Linked DNA regions of Homo sapiens: regions 1 and 3 are each linked to region 2. The links come from fine-mapping of genetic effects on plasma protein levels. Region 2 holds a variant in brackets. A gene starts in each other region. All regions are shown on their forward strands.

Region 1 (8,279 bases), not on the chromosome of region 2:
GTAGAAGGGGATTGGAAAGCAATAATGGTATTTTAAAAGTCATCTACCCAGGGACAGAGAGGATCTGCCCCAGGAAACTCCCAGGTCCTGCTGCCTATGGGAAGGAAGCATCCCACATGGAGGAGAGAGACTCAGACTCCATGTTGCTTCTGGGAATCTGGTGGGAGGGAGGAAGTCCACTGCGTGAAGGGACCAAGTTCTAATGGGGAAGGGGAGAAAGATTCTGCTTGTACTTCTGCTGTGAGCAGCTGAGTAGTAGATTGTGACAGAGAAGCCGCACATTGAACCTCTGTCGTCCCAGAGTGCTGGAGAAAGAGGCATGTCTGAGCTTAGATGTCAGAGTCAGTGACTGTGCAAGAGGCCAGTTTCCTCATCCCCTGTGCATTCTATGTGCAGCCTCTGAAAACATACATTCTGTGTCCTGGATTGACTCGAATCTAAACCACTCTTATTATTTGTGGCTTATTAAAGAGGCCAATATAGACTGATGGTCCTCCTATGGCCACAAAGAGATCACGGCAAAGTTGCAAGAAAGGATTCTGAGCTTTTGTAGCCTTCTCAGAAGTCCCCAGACCAAGAACTACTCCTTGGGCATAACAGGTGGCAGACAGCAAGAGGTAAACCTTTTGAGTGGACAGAGAGCCTTTATGTGAAATAGAGTTACAAATATAAAAAGACAAAAAAAAATCCTGCCCACTTGTGGAACTTTGAGCAATTAATTTAACATGTTGAAGCTCCATTTTATTACCCATAAAAGGAGAATGATATTGCAGCATTATCACAATAGTCAAGCTTTGGAATCCACCTAACTGTCCATCAATGGATGAATGGATAAAGCAAAAATGTGGAGAGTAGAATGGTGGTTACCAGGGGCTGCCTGAAGGGTTACTGGAGAGGCTGATCAAAGAATATAAAATTTCAGCTAGATAGGAAGAATAGATTCAAGAGATCTACTGTATAATTTGGTGACTATAGTTAATAACAATGTATTGCATACTTGAAAATCACTATGTGAGTAGATTTTAAGCGTTCTCACCACAGAAAAAGTGGGGGTGGGGAGCAGATAATAATATTTACCCTTCATGCTTTTGTGAAGACTTAACAATGTAACCTGAGTATTGGAATTCAATTGTGCTCAAAACCTGACTGCCACTTACTTGGACATGAATGATCTTAAGCAAATTATTCAGCCAGGTTAAATATCACATTAAGTTTTCTTACCAATAAGATGAAATATTAATAGTCATTTAACAGCATAATCCAAATGTGCCAGGATGCCTATGACAAGGTCCCTCTGTTTTCTTTCTTTTTTTTCTTTTTTGAGACAGAGTTTTGCTCTTGTTGCCCAGGCTGGAGTGCAACGGCGTGATCTCAGCTCACTGCAACCTCTGCCTCCAAGGGTTCAAGAGATTCTCCTGCCTCAGCCTCCCAAGTAGCTAGGACTCCAGGCGCCCGCCACCACACCTGGCTAATTTTGTGTATTTTTAGTAGACATGGGGTTTCACCATATTGGCCAGGCTGGTTTCAAACTCCTGACTTCAGGTCATCCACCCGCCTCGGCCTCCCGAAGTGCTGGGATTACAGGTGTGAGCCACCGCGCCTGGCCGGTCCCTGTTTTCACCCCGCATTCACCTAAAAGCAGGTCTCAGATTTTTAATTCAGCCCACCTAAATAAATCTATCTCAGCAAATTTAAAGAAAAATTGATATTTTATTAAAGACTTTGTGATAAGATATAAAATAGGTTCTCATCACAAAAGAAACTTAAATATATATTATCCATTAGATAGCTCCAGTGGTGTGCTGGTAAATGTTCAACAACTGACTCTTAAAGAAAAACGCATGCATTTATATACATACATATTTATTATAAATTTTTCTGATATAAAAGATTGTTACACACAATTTACTATTTGTAAATTTTACTATTGGTTCCTACAGACTGCTTTCATTGATTTTTGCAGAACTTTTGCAATCCATAGCCAACCTATGGTTCCGGCTGAACTGATTTGACAAATGGAGTTATATACCCATTTATTTTCTAATAAATCAATAACGTATTGTTATTGGATGTAATATGTAATCTATTATTAAAGTATTTGTCACCCTATTATATAATGAGTGTAGTACAGGCTATAGTCATTAAATTAAAACCTAGTTTTAGCACTAGATATATTGTTCATCAATGATGTGAGTGAGATTTTTCCTGAGTCAGAAAATAGTTTTCTAATATGTACTGAAATAATATTTTCTCAATTTGGGGGGCTATTCCCAATGTAATGGATATTAGCACCACACACTTTTAAGTTTATTCTGCATTATTTTGACATTTTCTTCATTACTTTCTTAAGTCTAATCAACTGATGAAACAATAAATAAAGCCCTGATTTGTATGTAAATTTTTGCCTGTATATTTTTCTTTCCTCATGGACTTGGGAAATTTTCTATGATCCTCATGGCTTTGCAGCTACTTACTGTATGCACCCTCACCTTGTTTGCAGCATTATCAGCTCCAGGACAGCCGAAATCCTTCTTGGTTCTTTCATACTATCGCCCACTGTGTCTAAAGTAGATTTTAAGTTAGTGTTACTTGAATTGCAAGTACTACTACCACTGAAGCAGCAACTCTGTTTCCATTGCTTGGGGAGAAGACCAAAAACACACATTAAACACCTGGAGAAAAAAAGTAAAACCACATTAAAGTGAGATTGTAGGAACTGACCAGAAATTTAGAAAAGAGAAAAACTCACTGCTGTGTGAAGAAGTCAAAGGAACTTCATGTTGACTTGAACAAGAAATTAAAGGAACCCCGGGCCTTGGCCTAAGGACAGACTGGAAATGGTGGTTTGGAGAGAAGAAATGAGGACAAAGGGAATGTGTGAGGAACAGTGGAAGGTAAAGTTGGCTGGATAAAATGAGACTTCAAAATGCCAGTTTGCGAAGCTTGAACTTGGTGCAATAAACAATCAAAGGCCATTTTAGATGTATATGAAAACAAATGGCATGGAAATGATATTGAAGCAGAAATCTGGTAGCATCCCCAGAACAGGAATTTCAGAAACTATTGCAGTGGCTTAGGTTTAAAAGACAAGAAACAACAAATGATCAGTTCCCCAGTGATCAGTGATAGGTCATGTTGATACCGTGTACCCACAGATACCAGGCAATGAGAAAGGCACATAATCTCTGTAGCATTCTTCCTAAACATCCACAGCTTCAGTCCAATCATGAGAAAACATCAGACAAACCCAAACTGAGGGATAGTATACAGAAACCAGTACTGTTCAAAAGTGTCAAGGTTTTTGAAGACAACTGACTGAGAAACTGTCACAGATTAGAGGAGGCTAAGAACACAGGAAAACTAACTGCAATATGGTATCCTGAATTGGGTCCTGGAATAGAAAACGGACATTAGTGGAACAGTTGGTGAAATTAAAATAAAATCAGTAACACAGTTAATAGTTTCGTATCACTGTTAAGTTTTTAGTTTCATTGGTTATATAAGCTGTTAACATAAGGCAATATGGGTGATGGGTATGTGGGAACTCCCTTTATTACCTTTGCAACTTTTCTGTAAGTCTAAAATCATTCTTTTTTTAAGTTAAAACAGCAAAACTACCAGTTCTTTTACCTGCTTCTAGCAGGTGCTCAAAGAGGGACAGAGCAAAACCTTGCAAAGCATGACATTAGAGGGTGTCCCAGAAGCAAGGGTCTTCTGTAGCCCCAGGCACTGCTGCTCCCAAACTGCATGGCCTTTCTTGGCAAATGATTTACAATCTCCGAACCTCAGGTCAATGTCTTAAAAACGGGCACAGAATGTCTTTTCAACAAATGGTACTAAGAAAACTGGATATCCACATGAAAAAGAGTAAATGTGGACTCATACCACATATGAAAATTAACTCAAAATGGATTAAAGGTCTAAGAGTTTAAATTATAAAACTCTTAGGAGAAAACATAGAGGAAAATCTTCCTAACATTGTATTTGGCTATGACTTCACTGCGACACCGAAAGCACACGCGACAAAATAAAAATAAAATAAAATAAAATAAGACCAGAAAAGCAAAGAAGGGCAGCATCCCTTCCCGTCCTGATAGCTGCCGGATTTTACCCCAATCGTGTTTCTGCTTCCAGGAGCTGTCCGCGCGTCGCCTCTGTTTTATCACTAAGGTTTTAATTGTGAATAAACAAGGAACTGGATTCGAATGATTTCTTAGTTTCTGAGATTTTTTTGTCTAAGCATCGTAGACTTCGTGCGTTCTCAACCCAACAGGAAGCGTCACATCTCAGTGAGCTTCGGCTCTCACAGCCCGAAACTGCAAGGAGCTCCTCTGCCCGGCCTCTCTTTACTCCTCCTCTCTGCCCCTCAGCTCGCTCATCTTTCTTCCCGCCCCCTCTCTTTTCCTTCTTTGGTTCTTTGAAGTGATGAGCTAGCGCAACCACAAACCATACATTCCTTTTGTAGAAAAACCCGTGCCTCGAATGAGGCGAGACTCAGAGAGGACCCAGGCGCGGGGCGGACCCCTCCAATTCCTTCCTCGCGCCCCCGAAAGAGCGGCGCACCAGCAGCCGAACTGCCGGCGCCCAGGCTCCCTGGTCCGGCCGGGATGCGGCCGGTACCCGCTCCCCGCCGGGAACAACCTCTCCACTCTTCCTGCAGGGAGCTGGTGCCAGCCGACAGCCGCGCCAGGGCCGCTCCGGGTACCAGGGTCGGATCGGGTGACGTCGCGAACTTGCGCCTGGCCGCCAAGCCGGCCTCCAGGCTGAAGAAGGACCCGCCCCGGCCTTGACCCGGGCCCCGCCCCTCCAGCCGGGGCACCGAGCCCCGGCCCTAGCTGCTCGCCCCTACTCGCCGGCACTCGCCCGGCTCGCCCGCTTTCGCACCCAGTTCACGCGCCACAGCTATGTGTCCCCGAGCCGCGCGGGCGCCCGCGACGCTACTCCTCGCCCTGGGCGCGGTGCTGTGGCCTGCGGCTGGCGCCTGGGAGCTTACGATTTTGCACACCAACGACGTGCACAGCCGGCTGGAGCAGACCAGCGAGGACTCCAGCAAGTGCGTCAACGCCAGCCGCTGCATGGGTGGCGTGGCTCGGCTCTTCACCAAGGTTCAGCAGATCCGCCGCGCCGAACCCAACGTGCTGCTGCTGGACGCCGGCGACCAGTACCAGGGCACTATCTGGTTCACCGTGTACAAGGGCGCCGAGGTGGCGCACTTCATGAACGCCCTGCGCTACGATGCCATGGTAAGACCCGAGCCCGCGCCCGGGATAGTAGTCCCGGACTGAGAGAGGAGCCGGGCTGGAAAAGCAGCGGATGGCAGAGTGTGGCAAGCCTAGGTCCAGGGCGCGGAGAGATGTGGGGATAAAGTGAGACTCCGGCCAGTGTGCCAGCTGGATGCATAGAAGTCCCTTGGACGATTCGTCTTAAACGGACGTTATTGCGCCCCCACTATGAGATGGGAGTATTTAGAGGAGCAGGACCCAGTCCTGCCTGCGAGGGGCTTAAGGTGGGGTGCGTAGAAGCACTGACAGTTATCCAGAGCTAGGGACTGAATCGGATCCCTCACGCAGCTCTCATTTACTGCTAGATCTTTCAAAGAATGCTTTATCTCAATCTAGATCTTTCGAAAAATGCTTTATCTCAATCTTATTGAAAGGGAAACCGCGTCGAAGAAGCTGAATAAATTAACAGGCACCATCCCCGCAAAAAGGGAGACGTGATAAGAATGGACACCAGATCTCTTTGACCCCGGAGCTTGAGAGTAATTAAGCTCACAGCTTTGGGGTAGATTCTCTGTTCAATTACCTTCTATGTGACCTTGAGCAAGTTATTTACTCTTTCTTGCCTCAGTTCTATCCTGTATAAAAATAAGGATTATAATTGTACATAGTGCACATAGTGTGGTCTCTATATTATTACCAGACACATAGTGTGGTGTCTATATATGTTGTTATTACCAGACACTATAATATAGGGTTAAGAAAAGGAAAGAAAGAAAGAAAGAGAAAGAAAGAAAGAAACTTCAGAGAGAGCCAAAATGTGGAAAGACTTGGGTTTCAAAGGATTTCAATAAAGTAGGTTTGGCGGCAGAGATTTAGGAAGAGTCCAACTTAAGAGATAATGGGCTCTTAAAACATGTGCAAAAGTTTAGTTCAAAGTCCCAAATGTTAGGTTAAAGGTAATGCCTTTTCTATTGCACTAAATTCTAGAAAGGGAGCAGAGGTGGTTGCACAGTAATAAATAAGTACAACCAAGATGTATATATGGTGGTTAAAAAAAAAATAAAACCACCACCCAAATTTAACCCTGTGTAAAAGCCTTGAGTAAAGGGATTCAGCAAGACTGTGGAGAAACTTGGGAGAAGAAAAAAGAGCTTTGGAAGAGGAAGAACTGAGAAATCTCCAGAGAAACGTCCAGAGAAATCTGTGAAGTCCACAAGTGTGGAAGGGAAAGGGAAGTGTGATTAGGCTGGGATACAGAAGGCTAACAGTACACTTTATATGAGAAGAGCTTAGAGGTCAGGAGAGCACAATGCTGAGGGGTTTGTTTGGTTTTATTTTCCCCTCTGGAAACTTGGAGAAAGGAGGACAGGAAAAGATGATAAGAGGGCACCATTGTTTGGTTTTAAAGGTCCCTCCCCAACCCCCCACAACAAGAAAGCTCATTTTAATGAGATGAGAGAAGGGGAGAAAGCTCCCTCCGTTCTGATGCTTTTGAGCTTATCAGGGACACCCTGCAGCAGAAATTCCAGCTGATCCTTCAGCCTTCAGAGTTGATGAGGTGGGGCTCACACACATCTGGATTTGAAGAAGAATCGTGGGTTTCAAGAACTCTGTGGTCTCTTAAGCATTGGTATTCCACAGCTACACTTCCCTGATACTTTGCACTCAGTAATGACAAAATAAATATTTGTAGAATTGAGTTGTTGCTACCCTGTGTCTCCACTTCCTCCCAGAAGGGTAGAATAAACTTACATGTGTTTGTTTTATTTTGCATATAAACCACGACTTTGTAAACTTTACTTTTTGTGACACTCTTTTCTCCACAATTGTGTGAACCCTTTTTAGTGGAAAAATAAGAATGAAGAATTCCTAGTTTTCCCTAATAATATTTCCCTCTTGTAAGTCTAGTTGAGCTCCTGGTGTTAATCATGGTATCAAATGTTTATGACAGGACATCTAGGTGAGGCCTGAGTAAACTGCTGTAAGTTACAGCCTATCTCTTCTGTGTTTGTTCAGAATCCTTTTTGTTGGATGAAATTACTTTCTTTCAAATTTTGCTCAAGAAAATTGAATTGGGTTCTGAGGAAAAATAGGCTACTTACGTAATGTTGGCAGGGGGTAAAGATTGGGAGCGGATCACATGGCAAGGTTAGATGGCTGTGTCCTCAGGACTTACTCTGTGCAGTTTGGGGGTGTGTCAAACATGATTTGACGTGCATAAAATCCCAGTTCTGTAGTGCTAAAGCATGTGCTAAAGCTCTGCTGTACTCCAGTATTGCACAGATGTTTCACTGTCAATTGTTTATATTATACTAACCCTCAGAGAATTTATTGCTGTTGTGGTATAAACGTTCCTCCACTGTAACCACTCACCGCATATTGATTCCTAGGACACTGGGGATTCAAATCAGGGTGGAAAACAGTTGTGGAGGGGCATCTCCAGTTTCCTGGAGACTGGACCTAGTTCAAAGGAGCCACATAAAAGGACTGAAGCATATGGAGGACAAAGAGGAATTTCCTAGAATCCAGCTAAAACACAGGAGTCCCCTCGAGCAGGAACTTCCAAGGAGGTGTACACTTTCTAGACCTACTGGAGTAATCCTGATTGCTGTAGAGGACCCAGGGCAATCCTGGAGACCCCCTGGAACCACTACTAGGCAGAAAACTGGGAAGAGGATGGCAAAACTCTCCAGTTAGTGTAGCTGTCTCAGTGGAAGGACTGTTGTCCCCTGAGGCACGAGGAAGACAGCATGGAAGCACTGACAGTATGCGCTTGGCCTGGTTACTTTCTCTGAGCTTCATGTTCCTTAGCTGTAAAACAGGAGTGATAACCCCCATCTTGCAGAGGTTTTGTGAGGAATACATGAGATAATCCCTGCTGGTGCTCACTGAAAGTGAGTTTCATGTGCCCTGGGTGGGGAGGAGGGGAATTGTGAGGAAGGGAAGGTTTGGGTTGTGCATCAGATTATCTGATTCTCACAGCCTGGCACAGTCTACCACCTGCCTGCCCTCTACCATCTTACCTAAGTACCATTGCCTAAACTATTTTTGCTATAG
Region 2 (8,000 bases):
AGGAAAAGACGCAGGAGGCTGCCAGTAAGTCCCAATGGAACTTGTGTTAGGACAAGAGTGTATGTATGCCTTTCACATAGTGCCCCAATACACATTCTAAATGAATGGATGGATAAACAGATAAATGTTCGTGTACTTAGACCTCAGCTATTTCCAAAAATGAACCTGGAGCAGCTTATATTAAAAATGCATATGGAATGACTACATCATTAATAAAGTACAGAGATATATGTTGAACCATTTATAATGAACAAGATCTGCCCAAAGCAGAGATGATCTTATGGGAGGTTTGATAGTGAATTTTAAGAAGCAACATATTAAACTCAAAAATTGGAAAAAAAAGAGTTTGTTTTGAGTTAATAAACAGAGTTTTAAAACACTGAGCTACAGTAGTAAATATAAGCAAGAAATTCTAAAACAGGAAAAGACCTTGGAGATCATCCAGCTCTGTTTACAGATGAGGATACTAAACTGAGGTAGTATGCTGAGAAGTCTCTCTACCAGTTAGTGGCAGAACTGAGATTACAGCTCATCTCTTCACTTCTGGTTTGCTGCTCTACCTATTGTCTATGCATAAATCCACAAAACAACAACAACAAAACTTCATTGGGCTAAAAAAAAATTTTTTTAAATCACGGAGGGTTGTAGTTGCTTAACTGCTTTAACACAAAGGTATTTTTAAAACAAATGTAACTGTTTTGTAGGCTTCGAAATCAAACTTCCTGTTGTTCAATCCTATGTGGTGATTTGCAGCAAGTCAATATAACTTGCAACTGGGTGGTTTCTGCGTATATACCTTACCATAAACTTAGGAGTTCAAGATGCCTGGTGACCCTGGATCTGCATAATCTGTGCATTATTACGGTCTCCATTCTGGACCTACTAACATTACCGGTACACATCTGTGTAGGATGACGACCTATCTTCCTTCCTAACAATACACATGGACTTTAAATCTTTTAACAGAATTTCTTTGTTATGTGTCTCAAATGCTATTTCATGGCAACAAAAAAAGCCTAGGTTAGCAATGGATGTCCCTGGGTTTATCTGTTATTATGGATGCTGACTTTATTAATGCCTATTTTAACTAGTAAATATTCAGAGAAGTCTGATATCTATAGCCATACTAAGTTTAAATCACTGCGAAAATACAATTGAGATTAATGACGGACAGTTCTAAAAATCTAGGTTAAAAAGTGAATTTTCTAAACAAGTTCATATATGGGATCATTCTCAGATTAAGGCTTATTGAGACTTATGGCCGGGTCCTGTGCTTCATGCCTGTAATCCCAGCACTTTGGGGGCCTGAGTAGGGTGGATCACTTGAGGCCAGAAGTTCGAGACCAGCCTTACTAACATGGCGAAACCCCATCTCTACTAAAAATACAAAAATTAGTCGGGTGTGGTGGTGCATGCCTGTAGTCCCAGCTTCTCAGGAGGCTCAGGCACAAGAATTGCTTGAACCCGGGAGGCGGAGGCTGCAGTGAGCCGAGATCGCACCACCGCACTCTAGCCTGGGCTATAGAGCCAGACGCTGTCACAAACAAAAGATTTATTATAATAACCACGGGCCTAATGGGAGTATCAGGAGAGGTGATCTCCCTCTCCGGACTTTGTATGCTTTTGCAATAATTTTAATAACATCACATAAATATTAAAGAAAACAGCAGCCAGAAACCCCCTATGTATTGACCCACAGGAAATATTCTTAGTTCTCAGCTGTATGAGACCAGGTTTGCTTCTAAGAATATTTACATTTTATTCAGTACAATAAGATGTTTTGGAGACCCTCTCTCTGAAACTCTCCCTGTTATTTCTTTTAAACAGGAGTCTGGCATCCTGGGAATCTTGTTGGCCTTCTACAAGAAACTTTGTCTTTAAAATAAAAACCATTTATTTTATTCTTAGCTGCAACAGAACAGTAGCTTCAAAGAGAATTCAGTCAATGTGTGACATTTATCTTTATAGCAAACGGACATAATCTTCCCTCTATCGTGTCCCCTTTCAGAGGAGCCGTGTAGCATGTGCTGGGGGCGCAGGGTCACATGAAAGAAACCTCCCCCTCAAGTGTCACGTCTCTCTTGCAGGGCGGAAAGGCTATCGAGTGGTGGACTCTTAAGGAATTAAATACACCATGACCTGGCAACCACTGAATCCTGTTCAAAAAAGAAGAATAAGGCCAAACCTAAAAGACAATTTTTTTTTCATGGTTTGGACTTCCCTTGACCTAAAGAAGGTCAAAGAAATGGTGGTGTCTAAATTACTCAAGGCGGGATCAGCTTTTCTAGCACATATCTCTTTGTAACTTAAGAATCAACTTTATATGCTTTTTTCTTGCGCATTTTGAGAAATCGCTTTTTAAAAATGAAAGCCCTGCCTGAAATCAGGATGGTGTGTAGTTTATTTTTGTGGCTTTTTGTTGTTGTTCTTGGGGGCGGTTATTATTTGTTTACTTAAGTCATTAGGCAACAGAAACTCTTTTCCCTGCTGTGAGAGGCCAATGCACCTACGTATTTTGAATTAAACTAAGATTTCCTTCTAAGGGAGAGGAAAGAATAATAATGACAAATGTTCCCATACAGGGGTGATGACTCTCACCACATTTCCATAATGCTTCTTAGATAAATCGAAGGTACATCCCAATCCAGCCCCAGGTGGCCCCCAAACCAACAGTATAATGTGTGGAAGGTGGGGGAGGGAGGGGGAGGGAAGAAAAGGGAGTTGGGGAGGGTAGAGGGGACAGATGGAGATGATCCACCTTTCCTTCCACTCCTCAGATGCCAAAATCAGTGATCCCCAGTAACACCAAATCATGTACCCATGATACAAAGACAAATAACAAAATTAGATACTCTGTGAACTCCTTATTAACCCATAATCTAGCTAGGCTGCTGGGAAGTGATGACATTCACTTTAACTGAAAAGAGTGAGGGCATCCCCTCTTCTGTTTCCAAGCCATGCAATAACAAACAGAACTTGAACGTAGGATGGGCCCACGTGGACGTATGGAATATTTTTCGGGTAACAATTTCAAGGACCCTCATTTTCTTGGCAGTGATCTTTCCTCATGCATGAGTTTTACAAAATGAAAGATTTTTTAAATAAAATTACTCTGCTGATGAAGCTGCTTCTTCAAGTCTTAGACTGAACAGAGGCATGTTGAAATGGGAGAGTTGGGGTGGGGAGGCCTTAGGTACAAGTCAATCAGCACAGGGTTCTATAACCCAAAGCTGAGAAGTTCCTTTCCCTCCTCTTTCAGTTTGAACATTCTGAACATCCCTTGATTAAAATATTAAGTGTTTCAGCAATATAATAAATATAGTAAAAAGCAAAGTAAGAAACGATTTCTTATAGATCTCCCATATTCAATTATTCTGAGAACCCCACTGAGTTGCTGGCATAGATTAAGTGTATTTAAACCAAAAAGGAACATAGCTTTTCCCTTGGGTGTATTTCCCACAACAAAACAAACAAAAAGTCTACCATTCACTGGAAGCTCATGACCTCTTTCTCATCTTTACATGTATCTGGTCGTTTGAGTGAAAAAAATTATATTCACAACCATTGCTGGTTATACCGGAGACTTCAATATGACAAAGCTGCTACAGTCTGGGCTTCAGGAAACATGGTTTTATCAGTCACTT[C/A]TTTCCAAGTCTTCAATCAACTAAAGTTTATTATTAACTTTGCATAAGCTTTCCCAACTAACAAATGTCCAGATGAATTGTATACTAGAAACGCCATTCACACATTTATTCAATAACTAGATATGCAGAATATACATATATATAATTATTATTTTCTTTTTTTTATTTTTATTTTTTTGAGACAGAGTCTCATCCAGGCTGGACTGCAGTGACACGATCTCAGCTCACTGCAACCTCTGCCTCCCGGGTTCAAGCAATTCTCCTGCCTCAGCCTCCCAAGTAGCTGGGATTACAGGCGCACACCACCACGCCTGGTTAATTTTTGTATTTTTAGTAGAGACGGAGTTTCACCATATTGGTCAGGATGGTCTTGACCCCCTGACCTCAGGTGACCCACCCGCCTTGGCCCCTCAAAGTGCTAGGATTACAGGTGTGAGCCACTGCGCCCGGCCTAAAATTTTATTTTATATACAGCCATACCTCTCTTTCTACTGCTATCCCTAAATGAAATTTCTATAAGTCAGGAGTGATTTTTTCCATCGTAGAACTACCCCAGCCTCCTTTGCTCTTCTCCTTGTTTCCTAATTTTACCCATTTCTCTCCTTATTTCACCAGATGGCAGGTGAGAAGAGAGGAGAAGTGGAACTTAGAATTGACAACATCCTAGGATTTTACTGACATTTCAGAAACTCTGGAGAGAACAGTTTGGATCACCAAGAGTCATAAAAGTCCCAGATACCCATTTTCCTCGTTGTCTTCTGCTGTTGACTCAAGTTTTGAAGTACTTATAATTAGTGAATATAGCTCACTCAGCCATTTAAATGGAAATTTGTCATAAATGCATCAAATTGACATTAACTGTGATCGTTCCGTCAATTATTTGCCATTCCAAACCCTCTTCATCATTGTTGCTGAAAATAATCAAAAGTTGGCTAGACACACACGATGGCAATGTTTGTACCGATGAGGATGCACATAGCCTACTTCCTGCTCCAGTCTGGCAGGATATCCTTAAGAGACATCTGAAACCCCAACACGCATCCCAGGAACGTGTATTTATCATGTACACAATTTTAAAGCAAACCAGAACAAGAAATGGTGTTTCCACTGTGAGAATTCAAGTGACTAAATTTCTCCCTCAGATGAATAATTGTGAATGCTAAGGTCCTATATGACAGCGATTTCTCCTTTGGAAAGACTGCCTCCACTAGAAAAACCTTAGGATTCAAATTTTCCACATGCACATTCCTTCAAAATTGGATTGGATTTGAATTAAATAAAGCATTCACAGGAAATGTGTTGATTATGTTTGATTGACAATCTTTTTGAGTTCTTATAGGACAAGAAATTGTAGGAGAATAGGATACGTGAAAAGGGCTTAAATTCCACAAAAAGTAATAAAAATGCTAACATAAAAGTATATGGTGTGATAAATTAGGGCAGAGTAGTTCCTGATTGTACAAAAGTCCATTTGTGATGGAGGCAGCAGGAGTGTGGGCTCTCCCTTGTCCACTATTTCAAAAGCAGTGGGTTTTTTTCCCCTTATGTTCAGTGATGCCATGCACTCCATGACAAAGATGCTTTGATCTTCTCCCATTAAATATATCTTGTATGGACCTAGCCTGAACTTAGTAAGAAAAAAAAATCATTTGTATGAAAGGGAGGGAATGCTGTATGTCTCTAAGATTATTCATTACCTTTCAAAAGTGAAGCTATTTGTGAAGTCTTTGTGTAATACGTACATGAAAGACTACTATGCTGCTTACTTAAAGTATTTTTGTTGTGCTCTTGCTTTTTTATTCCTGCCTCAGATCAGATGGGGAACCCAACTGAAAAAAGCAATGAATAAGACATCGCAGTTTATAGTCTAAAGGACTTACACGATGATTGAAAGAAAAGATGCCATACCTGAATTGGAGGGTTTAGAAACTCTTCCCTTAGGAACTGGGAGTAATAATAATTCCAGGGATTGTGGTGGTGGTGGTGGAGGTGGTGGAGGTGGCGGTGGAGGTGGCGGAGTGACTTTTTCTGGTTTCTTCTCTGAAGGCGGGGGCGGTAGAGGGTCCTCAGGCAGCAGCGATGATTTCTCAGCCAGAAGACTGCCCGCAGCCCTTGCGGCCACCTCCTTCAGAAGGGCCGCTGAGGAGGTCATAGAAGCCAGGGAAAGGAAGGAGCTGGCCGGTGGAGGGTGCTCCTGACCAGGAGTCAAACTTCTTTCACTGACCTTCTTGGACAAAGCGGCCAAGGTAGAACTGGCAGACTGGGAGCTAAAAGGGGAGGAAAAGGACTCAAATCGCATGGTCTCCTCAGTCCTGGTGAGAGATTTGTCCTGCAGAACGGCATTGGCTGCAGCTTTCAGTTTTAGGATGGCTGAATCCGGAGACAAGCTGCAGGTGGTGGTTGAGTTTGGCAACCACTTACCTTGATTCCATATAAAACGGTTACTTGGAGTGTATTGGTCATTCTGTTCCTGCTTCTCGGCCAACTTCCTGGCCAGAACACTGAGCTGCTGGGCGTGGTGGGAAGGCGGGGAAAAGGAGAGGTTCGAGCCAACGTTTACGGGGGACTCCACTCTGCCATTAGCCGTGGCTGCAGCATCGAGTTTGAGGGAACCAGCCTCCAGCAGCCGCCTCAAATTGCTGCTCAGGGGCTTGTTGGAGCCTGGGTCATCGTCACACAAAGAAGACACTCCCGGGGAAAGGTGATCTTGACACTGCAGTGAGTCTCGCAGGACCTCACTGTCCAGTGCCACCAGCTCCAACGTGTGGCTGCTGGGAGTCGTGCTTCCCAAGGAGGTGTCCGGGGACGTGGACTGCTCCTGGATCCGGTCCTCCAGAGACAACTTATAGTTCTCCTGGACTTCCCCATAGGATGCTTCTGACGGAGTCTCTGAAGAGTTTCCATACCAGTGTTCTCCTTCACTGAGCTCTCCCTCCGCCTCTTCCTGCCTACTAACATCTGGGGAGAATTAAGAAGATCAGGTTTACTCCCAAAGTGAACAATAAGTAAGTCTCAAGACATTCAAATGGAGGTGATGACATGCTTTCTCTTCCCTTCCACCCAAGAACCAAATGAAAGGTGGCAACAGCCTTAACAGAATGTCAGACAGACTTGGCAGAAGCCTGAAAAAAGTAAAAAATGCTACACAGGCAAAGGTAAAAACATACCCAAGTAGTCCAGATAAGTTGAAAGGGAAAAGAAGGAAAAAGAAAAATGGATCTGGTAAAGAGGTAATTGGATGAAGAAACTGCTATTTTCAGGGAATGGGGGGAAATGGAAAGAAGCCTATATCCTTGTGAAAAACCAGCACAGTATGTTTAGCACTGTGACAGAATGAGAGAGGCAGCCTGGCATAGTGGGACACAGACCGTGAGACACAGACAGTGGGAAGCGCTTCCCTACTTTCTAACTCCGTGACTCTAGGCAAGTCACTGAGCTGGTCTGAGAATCCACTTCCTCCAATATAAGATGCAATTCATTTTTTAAAAAGCTTATCAAAAATGTACATAATACCTGCTTAACTCACTTTATCAGTTGTTATAAAGCTTATATCATAATAAGCATGTGATCATGTTTTGAAAACAGTCAAGTACCGTATAAAATCAGATTTCATTAGCAAACACTACTCACATTTCTGGCTTCTGACTGTGACAGTACCTCCCATGTTATGCATGCTACCTATTTGAGGGTCCTCAACTCCAGTCATCAACATGCTTGCCATATTATCACAGGCAGCGGTTAGGAATGTGTTCCCTCCCTCCACTAAGAGTGTCTTTTCATTATTTTCTATTTATCGATCCACCACTACCACTCCCATGACACTCTCATGCACCAGTTAGGCAGGCTCCTTGCCATTCTAGGGGCATTCATGAGCCCTGCCACTTTTCTACCTTTTCTCACGATATTCCTTCCATCTCAAATGTCTTTCCCCAGAAAAGCTGATTGTCCAATTCTACTTACCCTTCAACACCCGACTCAAAGGTTTCTTCCTTACAATTCTCCCTGGAACTCTCACTCAGAATGAACAAAACTAAGATCCTGCCTTCTTGGAGCTTACATTCCAGTGGGGGAAGACAAGTGTCAAACAAAATTAATAAATGGGTAAATAACATAGCATGCCAGAGGGTGATAAGTCCATGGAAAACCACATAGGGCAAGACAGGGAGGATGGGGAGTAATGGGTGGGAAGAGAGCTGCAATTTTAAACAGGTGGTCAAGGTGGAGCTTCACAGAAGTGGTGGCATTTCAGCAAAGCCTTGGAGGAAGTGAGAAACTGACCATGCAGAGGGAGAGTCACTGTGAAGGCCCTGCTGTGGGAACATGCCTGGCACGCCCATGGAACAGCACTGAAGCCAG
Region 3 (8,279 bases), not on the chromosome of region 2:
TAGCACCTCACTATATTCTCGGACTGTGCTTTCCTGGGCCTCCACTTTGGAAAAAGAATTGGTTCAACTGGCAAACAGTTGAACCAATTGAATAATAAACCGTTTTCAAAGGATAGAAAATGAGATGCCAGAGTAAAGGAAGCGGGGTAACGGGGAGAATCTGTTCACAGGAATTTTGGCCCACCCTCACATCTAACAGGGGCCTCAAATTTAACTTATAAAAAAATCAAATGATATATACACTCCTCACAAAGTAGCTGCCCTGTTGAAGGAAGACACCCATGCCTCACCCAGCTTTATAACTGCATGCTGTTTCTGAATCACACTAACTGGACATAGTGGATTCATGTTTTGTAAGTTGTGTAATCCTATAATACTGCATTCCAATTTTCTCCACATTAATTTTTTACTCTAAACAGTTAAAATATATAAAGCAAAAACACCTTATTCACCTATTGTGGATACTAGATAAATTATTTTGTGACATTTATGCCTATGAGAACACAATGTCACTGGTAACTTCATATCACTTCTCAAATATTAAAGTGAAAGAATGACATCACTTTTACCCATCTGTTATTTAAAAGAAAATGATGCCATCTTCAGTCTCAATAGGTAACGCAGCAGAAAAGAGTTTCCTTTTCTGAAATCATGAGGGCTTCTAAGTGTCGAAATTGTTTAATCATCTTCCATCATTGATAATTTCAGAAAAAAAAGCTACAACAACGTGAAGACCATAGTTGAGAAGGCTACTTTGAATAAATGTGTAAGAGAAACAAATTACTGTTCTTCGTTGAATTAATCCCAATCAATTCCAGCCATGCAAAATGTAGCAAGTTGACATTTACCCTGTTTTGTTATAACCACCGTAAGAAATTTTGTTCTGGGTGGTTCCATTTACTTGTCCTTTTAAACATTTTTTTCTACTGCCACAGTAATATTAGTCTGAAGTCTTACCCAAAAATATCTCCAAGCAACTGCTGGGTCACATGAGTGGTCCATGTCCCCAGAACTCCAAAATGTGATTATCAGAGCTGAGTACAGAGAAATAAAAGCTGTCACGGTGAATGACCTTTTGTTGTACTTGCGAGATGGGGAGGTGTATAAATTTCATAAATGTGTTTGAAATACTCTGGCTTTGTATCACAATGGGTTATCTGAGGTTTGATTGTTTTGCACTTTTCATTAGAATCAGAATGTGAAATTTCAGGTTGATTTCCTTCATGCCATCAACCCAAAGTCTCCACAACCCTGGCAGAATTTCTATTCTTAGTTTCACGTGACCAGCTACATGATGCAGTGTGAGGAATCAAGGTTCACCTAGCGAGTCATACAGCAAAAGAGGACACATTGCAAAATGTATTGCAATAAAAACTCAACTAGTTGATAATAAAATAGCATCAGCTGTCCTCCAAAGAAAGTTGATTGATTTTTTTTTTTAATTTAAAGCTGAACAAAAGAGAATGATCAAGGTTCATGGAAAAGGTGACACTGCAAATTCATTTTCATTATCTGTGTCCTATCCCTAAGTTACTCGGTACACACATAGGATGGGAATACTCACTTGAATACCATGTAATTCACATAAGGCATGAGGCACTTTTCCAGTTCATAACTTAGAAGTCACCAAGCCTTCTATGTCTCCCAAAGTTTCTACATTTTAAAGGGTTGCATAGGTGATCCATCTGCTTTGGGGCGCCCCTTTGCATCCTCTCTGAGACCTCCACTTGGCCAACTATTTTGGGCCCATTTTGCATCAATTCAACCCAACAGCATTATGGAGGCTGATATGCATCCAGGGGAATGTAAGTTCCTAGGGACAGGAACTTTGTCTGGCTCACTGCTTTGTCCTCAGCATGTAGTACACAGTGTAGCTCATGGAGACTCCTAATTAGCTCTAGTTAATTAGCTAGCATGCGACAAAGGGAATTAAGAAGTAAGGAAAGCTGTATACAAATGAAATAAATAATCACTTGAGCATTGGAGGTCTAGCAATGCTGAGACACTAACTCTATAAATCTGTCAAGGGTCTGAAATTTCCTTGGTTGTAATAACCTATTTGGGTTAAAGTGTTTTCAAGAGACCACTCATAGGCAAATTTTGGTGGACAAAGTTAATATCGGCCCAAGAAGGGGCATCTTCCAAGAGCAGAAACTTTTAAATGAGTCCAAAATAGTAAATAATGATGCAGAATTTTAAGCCCCTCTACTCTCAGTCAACTTCCCTTCCCATGACTTCCCTGGCATTTGTTGAGCTCATTTGGGTTCCAGGCAAAACCTGAGACAAAGTCAAGGCTTGAAAGGGTTGGGGAGAGGCCGTATCCTTCACCCCATTGCCATTTTCAGTCTTCTACATGGATTTGTGGGTGAATCAGTGCTGCCTACCAGAGACCACCTTGGCCAGGATAATTTTATTTCTCCTAATTTAAATATGGAAAACTGATTTTGAGTGATTTTGTTGTAGACTAAAGAAGAAATCAGGGAGGAAGGCTAATTCTCTCCCCCTGCATATTTTCTGCCTTTTTGTCTTTATCACCATCAATGAGTACCCACAATACCGATTGCCTTTACTAACAGCCATAATGTTAGATGGATGAGACTGAGTGTAGTGTAGTGAAGGCACTCCTCTCTTGCTCCAGCAAATAAACCATTTTTGTAACTGCTATAAAAAAAAACCCTTTGAAATGATTTTATTTCTTGTTTTTATTACAAACAGAAAACATAAACCATGTCACCCACCATCTTGTGCTTTGAAATATGAAAGTCAAAGGAAAACTAATTTGGGAAGAGAGATGAAGTGCTTTGAAGGAGAGATGAAACAGCAAAGTTGAAAGATTAATGCTGCATAGACAAATTGAAATCTAAAGTGAAAGTTTAGACAACAGTAATCAAAATGAATGATAACACGAAAAGCCAGCAGGAAGAAAACATTTGAGCCAACAATCCAGTCTGGTTCATCCGGATAAGATGGTTATCTGGCATTTAATGCTGTTTCCTACACCATGAACATAAGCATTTACTGTCATACTAAGAAAAAGAAAAGTCATCCGAATTTATCGCTATTTTTACATGTAGTTAAATTAATTGTTGTCATATTTCCAAGTGAAGTAACATAGGTTTGGCTTTTGCAGTCAGTTCCTCAAGATTCACAGGCTTGGAATATTTTTTAACAATTTAAAGGCCCAAGATTTCTTACAGCCCCAAGAACTTTTCCCTCTCTACTAAGCACAAATCTGAACAAATAATTACACACCACCAACGTAAAACTAGGAGATCTTATTTTGGTACGGTCTTTGTGTAATTTTAAAACATGATTTTAAAAAATAAATTTTCTTACCTGGAAAATGCTGCAATATTATCAGCCAAAGTTTCTTCATCATTTGCCCCAGACCTGTAATAGTCATATATAGACTTTGGAAGTACTGATTTAGCATGTTGTTCATAATCATTGATACAAATTAGCCGGGGGAGCATTTTCACAGGTTATTGCTATCCCAGATGGAGTTCGTTGTTTTTTTTTTTTTAATGTATTGCTTTCTACATCCTCACTGTTCTGTTATTTGTCAATTATTAATAGACTTTTGCCAAAGTTCAGATTTAGTTCTCTGTTGCTTACATCAAGTGAGCAAACATTATATGCTTAGCCTTTGAAATTTCATTTGTAGGCTATCTGCCAAAGAACACCGAAGTCACTATCTGCCAAAGAACACCAAAGTTGAGGTTGGGAAGGCAGCAGAAGGTGATTAGGTGTCTATCACATTAAAAAGGGGAAAGGAATAAGTAAAAAATTAAAGACTTAGAGGAATACCTGTATGAAACCACTCTTGGTTCAGTTTTGCCTAAGGCTGCTTATTGCACATGGTCTGTGCCTGTGCTCTTTGCTTGATACCCAGAATAGGCTGCCCACTCATTTTCTTTCCACATTTGGATCATGCACAAATCATGTAAACAAGAGCTTATGAACTGAACGGGGCATCCATGAAATATGGGGCATCCGTGAAATTCAGGGCTTCTGCACAATATAAAATTTAGCTGATTACAAACATAGACATTTGGCTTTAACATGGAACATTAAGGCCAAATTGACAGCTAATTGTTTTATTCATTCTGTATATTTGAGGTTTACAACATGATATTATGAGATACATATACACAGAAAAATGGTTACAGTAGGGAGGCCAATATAATATATGTATCATCTCACCCGTAATTACTTTTTTGTGTGTATGACAAGAACAGCTAAAATCAACTTATTTAACAAAAATTCCTAATATGATACAATTTTATTAACTTTAGTCCTCATTTTGCACGTTTGCTCTCTAGACCAGGGGTCCCAAACTCCCCAGCATGGACTGGTACTGGTCCGTGGCCTGTTAGGAACCAAGCTGCACAGCAGGAGGTGAGCAGCCGGTGAGCAAGCTTTACAGACTGAGCTCCGCCTCCTATTGTGAACTGCACATGCGAGGGATCTAGGTTGCGCCACTCCTTATGAGAATCTAATGCCTGATGATCTGAGGTGGAACAGTTTCATTCCAAAACCATCCACCTACCCCCACTGCCCATGGAAAAATTGTATTCCACAAAACTTGTCCCTGGTGCCGAAAAGGTTAGGGACCCTGTTGTAGATTTATGTATCCTACGTGTCTACTATTTTGTATCCTTTGACCTATATCACCCCTTTTCCTCTTCCCTGCTTCCCACTAGTGGTATTCACTGTTTCATTCTCTAGCTCTGTGCATTTGAAGTCTTTTTTAAAACAAAATCCCACCTATAAGTGAAATAATGCAATAATTTCCCTTTTGTGCCTGGCTTATTTCACTTAGCATAATGTTCTCTGGGTTCTACTGCAAATGACAGGATTCCCTTCTCTTATAAGGCTGAATAATATTTCATTGTGTGTATATCTATACATTTCCCTTATCCATTTGTCTCTTAATGGGCATTTAGGTTTACCATTAATTCTTTTTTTTTTTCTTTTTGAGATGGAGTCTTTCTCTGTCTCCCAGGCTGGAGTGCAGTGGTGTGATCTCGGCTCATTGCAGCCTCTACCTCCCAGGTTCAAGAGATTATTCTGCCTCAGCCTCCCAAGTAACTGGGACTACAGGCATGTCCACCACGCCTGGCTAATTTTTGTATTTTTATTTAGTAAAGATGGGGTTTCACTATATTGGCCAGGCTGGTCTCAAACTCCTGACCTCAAGTGATCCAACCACCTCGGCCTCCCAGAGTGCTGGGATTGCAGGTGTGAGCCACTGCACATGGCCTACCACTAATTCTTAGAGTCTTATCTTGCCCTGGAGAGGGTATAGGGAAGTGCTATTCCAAAAGACCTGTGGTCTCAGTCTATAATTTCACTCAATCATGGAACACCTGGGGAAGATTCACATTAGTAGGATATGCTTGAGAAAGCAATGATTTTAACTACAGTTAGACCTGAGTTTCAATCTAGGAGCCGCCACTTAAAGCTGCTTGCCAGTTGTTCACTATCTACATTCCAACCACCTACACCTGTAGGAGAACTTGCTCTTGAACTTGGAGCCTGCTTTTTTCATAAACATAGCATGCCAAATAGTATAGTTCCATACCCTGTGGAACAGCCCTCAATCACAAGCCCAAGAAAGTTCATTCTTCTGGTGGGATTACTCCTAGGATTATGTTCTACATTGCAGGTTTCAGTTATCCACAGTGTGAGCTGGTTGATAATCTATGCTGTGTTGGCTATGTTCCTTTTTTGTTTGTTTTTTGTTTTGAGATGGAGTCTCACGCCGTCACCAGACTGGAGTGAAGTGGCGCAATCTCGGCTCACTGCAACCTCCGCCTCCCAGGTTCAAGCAATTCTCCTGCCTCAGCCTCCCGAGTAGCTGGGATTACAGGCTCATGCCACCACACCCAGCTGATTTTTGTGTTTTTAGTAGAGATGGGGTTTCACCATGTTGGCCAGGATGGTCTTGATCTCTTGACCTCGTGATCCGCCCAACTCAGCCTCCCAAAGTGCTGGGATTACAGGCATGAGCCACCGTGCCCGGCCTGGCTGCCTTCCCTTCTAATCAGACTTCCCTACTCCTCATTGGTGCTCCCTTCACCTCCCAAATAAACTCCTTGCATTTGAATGCTTGCCTCTCAGTCTCCTTTTGGTGAAACTCAAACCAAGACAAAGAGAAATATTCATCCCTACCCTGAGGAGTGACTGTGAGGACAAAGGATATATCATCGCTTAAACACCTGGCATATAGTAGGCACAGTTGACCTTTGAACAAAAAAAAGGGTCCACTTATATGTAGATTTTCTTTAGATTCTTCCACCCCTGAGACAGCAAAACCAACTTCTCCTCTTCCTCCTGCTCCTTATTCTACACAATGTGAAGATGACAAGGATGAAGAGTTTTGATGTACCACTTACACTTTATGAATAGTAAATATATTTTCCCTTCCTTATGATTTTCTTAATAACATTTTCTTTTTTCTAGCTTGCTTTATTGTAAGAATACAGTATATAACACATGTAACATATAAAATATGTGTAAGTTGATTTTGTTATTGGTAAGGCTTCCAGTCAACAGTAGGCTACTAGTTGTTAAGTTTTGGGGGAGTCGAAAGTTTTACACGGTGGGTCGGTACCTCTAACCCCCATATTGTTCAATGATAAACTGTATTTCATTAATATTACCCACCCTCATCTTCTCAATATACTTTACCAACACATTTTTCCAAAAGACTTTTGTTTAATGTCAATTATATAAGGACAATTCCCTAATGTACGAGAGATTGGACAAAGGGATTCTTGAGCTTCTGGAAGGCCATTGCCATTTTTCTTCAAGTAAGTTAATCCCTTTGAGTATTTCTTTGCTAGATTTGCAATTAGTCCAGTTTATTTTCTACACCCCCAAGAGAAGTGTCTTTCATAACTAATGTATATTTATATTATCAGATCTTTTTGAAAATTGCCTTATCCCATGCTTCATGAGGCTTTATATGGTAGAAAGAATAGGGTGTAAAATCATATCTTACAGTGGGTAAATACCCTTTGAGTTTATTTTGGAGAAGGAAAATCGTCTAAGATGAAGAAGAATACTAAGGGGTTCAGTATGTAATCTGTGACTTAGTTTTGACCTGTGGCCACAGAGTGAACACAAAGCACGGTCACCTGTTATATGAAATTCCCATGCTGTGGGTCACCAAAAGGAGCAGGAGAGAGGATATGGATCAAATCTATTTTTACTACTGACAAAGCAACTAGAAACCAAAGATGCAGGCTCCATAGCAGCCTATTAGGCAAACTGGGAATGAAACCAGAACCAAAAATATAAGCCATTAGGTCTTTCCCAGCTGTAATGATATAGTATATAAAAAATAAAGGGTTTTAATTTAATCGAAGGGTCATATGCTGTTAAAATTGACATAGAATTTTATAGTACATAGGTTTATTCTCAAAGTTCACAAATGCTTACTTTTTGCATCAATGTAGTGACAGATGAAATGACATATTAAAATCGCTATTAGGATGTGAAAAATCTGCCAATAAGATAAGCAAGTTCTAAATAATTCAGTTTCATAGTTAACAAAATTATTATGAAAATGTGGTCAAAGGGATCTTAATTATGGCTTATAACTCATTCAAAATGTAAAGATTAAAGCATGACCTTTTATCTGCATATTTATGTGCAAATTTAGCATTTATTAAAATAATTAGCATCCTGCAACTAATGTGATTAGAATGAAGAGGCAATCTAATATTGTTAATCAGGTCAAGTCCCGGTGAAACTAAAGAAGACACATAAGGGCCATTGGTTCTTAAAGTGTGACTTTGAACCAGCAGCATCAGCATCACCTAGGAAGTCATTAGAAATGCAAGTTCCAGGCGTCATCCTAGTCCTACTGAATCAGAAACTCTACAGCTATTTGTGCTGTAACAAGCCTTCCAGGTGATTTGATGCACAACATTGTTTGAGGACCATGGTTTAGGCGAGATGGAATGTAAAGGGGGACTTTTTTCTTAAGAGGCTTATTCTTTTTTATAATTTCAACTTTTATATTAGATACCAAGGCACATATGCAGCTTTGTTACCTGGGGATATGGAATGACGCTGAGGTTTGGGGTACAAATCCTGTCACCTAGGTAGTGATCACAGTACTCAATAGGTAGTTTTTCAATCCATGCTCCCTTCCCTCCCTCCCCACTGTAGTAGCCTGCAGTGTCTGTTGTTCTCATATTTATGTCCATGTGTGCTCAATGTTTAGCTTCCACTTCTAAGTAAGAACATGCAGTATTTGGTTTTCTACT

Which allele goes with the higher level. Alleles are on the strand shown, and positions count from the first base shown. The strength of an association depends on the size of the effect and on how common the allele is.
With allele A in place of C in region 2, the plasma level of the protein whose gene starts at base 4,848 in region 1 is higher (moderate association).
With allele A in place of C in region 2, the plasma level of the protein whose gene starts at base 3,509 in region 3 is higher (moderate association).

Evidence for each region. PIP is the posterior inclusion probability: the model's chance that the variant is causal. The UK Biobank Pharma Proteomics Project read protein levels with antibody pairs (Olink). The fine-mapping took linkage between variants from a reference panel, not from the people measured, so its PIPs are less certain.
Region 1: NT5E starts here. The variant in region 2 is fine-mapped to the plasma level of the NT5E protein (UK Biobank, PIP above 0.99).
Region 3: it holds the start of HAO1, and the variant in region 2 is fine-mapped to the plasma level of the HAO1 protein (UK Biobank, PIP 0.97).

The regions. Positions count from the first base shown.
Region 1 is chr6:85,445,236-85,453,514 of GRCh38, forward strand. It overlaps NT5E (5'-nucleotidase ecto), which reads left to right and starts at 4,848. Exons shown (of 9, transcript NM_002526.4): 1 at 4,848-5,243. The coding sequence starts at 4,905. RefSeq lists a silencer at 4,641-4,910.
Region 2 is chr4:145,896,614-145,904,613 of GRCh38, forward strand. ZNF827 (zinc finger protein 827) reads right to left here. Exons shown (of 15, transcript NM_001306215.2): 2 at 5,553-6,602. Among named protein-coding and RNA genes, the nearest start is that of ZNF827, 38 kb to the right of the region's middle. The variant C/A (reference allele first, on the strand shown) is at 3,645.
Region 3 is chr20:7,936,950-7,945,228 of GRCh38, forward strand. It overlaps HAO1 (hydroxyacid oxidase 1), which reads right to left and starts at 3,509. Exons shown (of 8, transcript NM_017545.3): 1 at 3,337-3,509. The coding sequence starts at 3,473.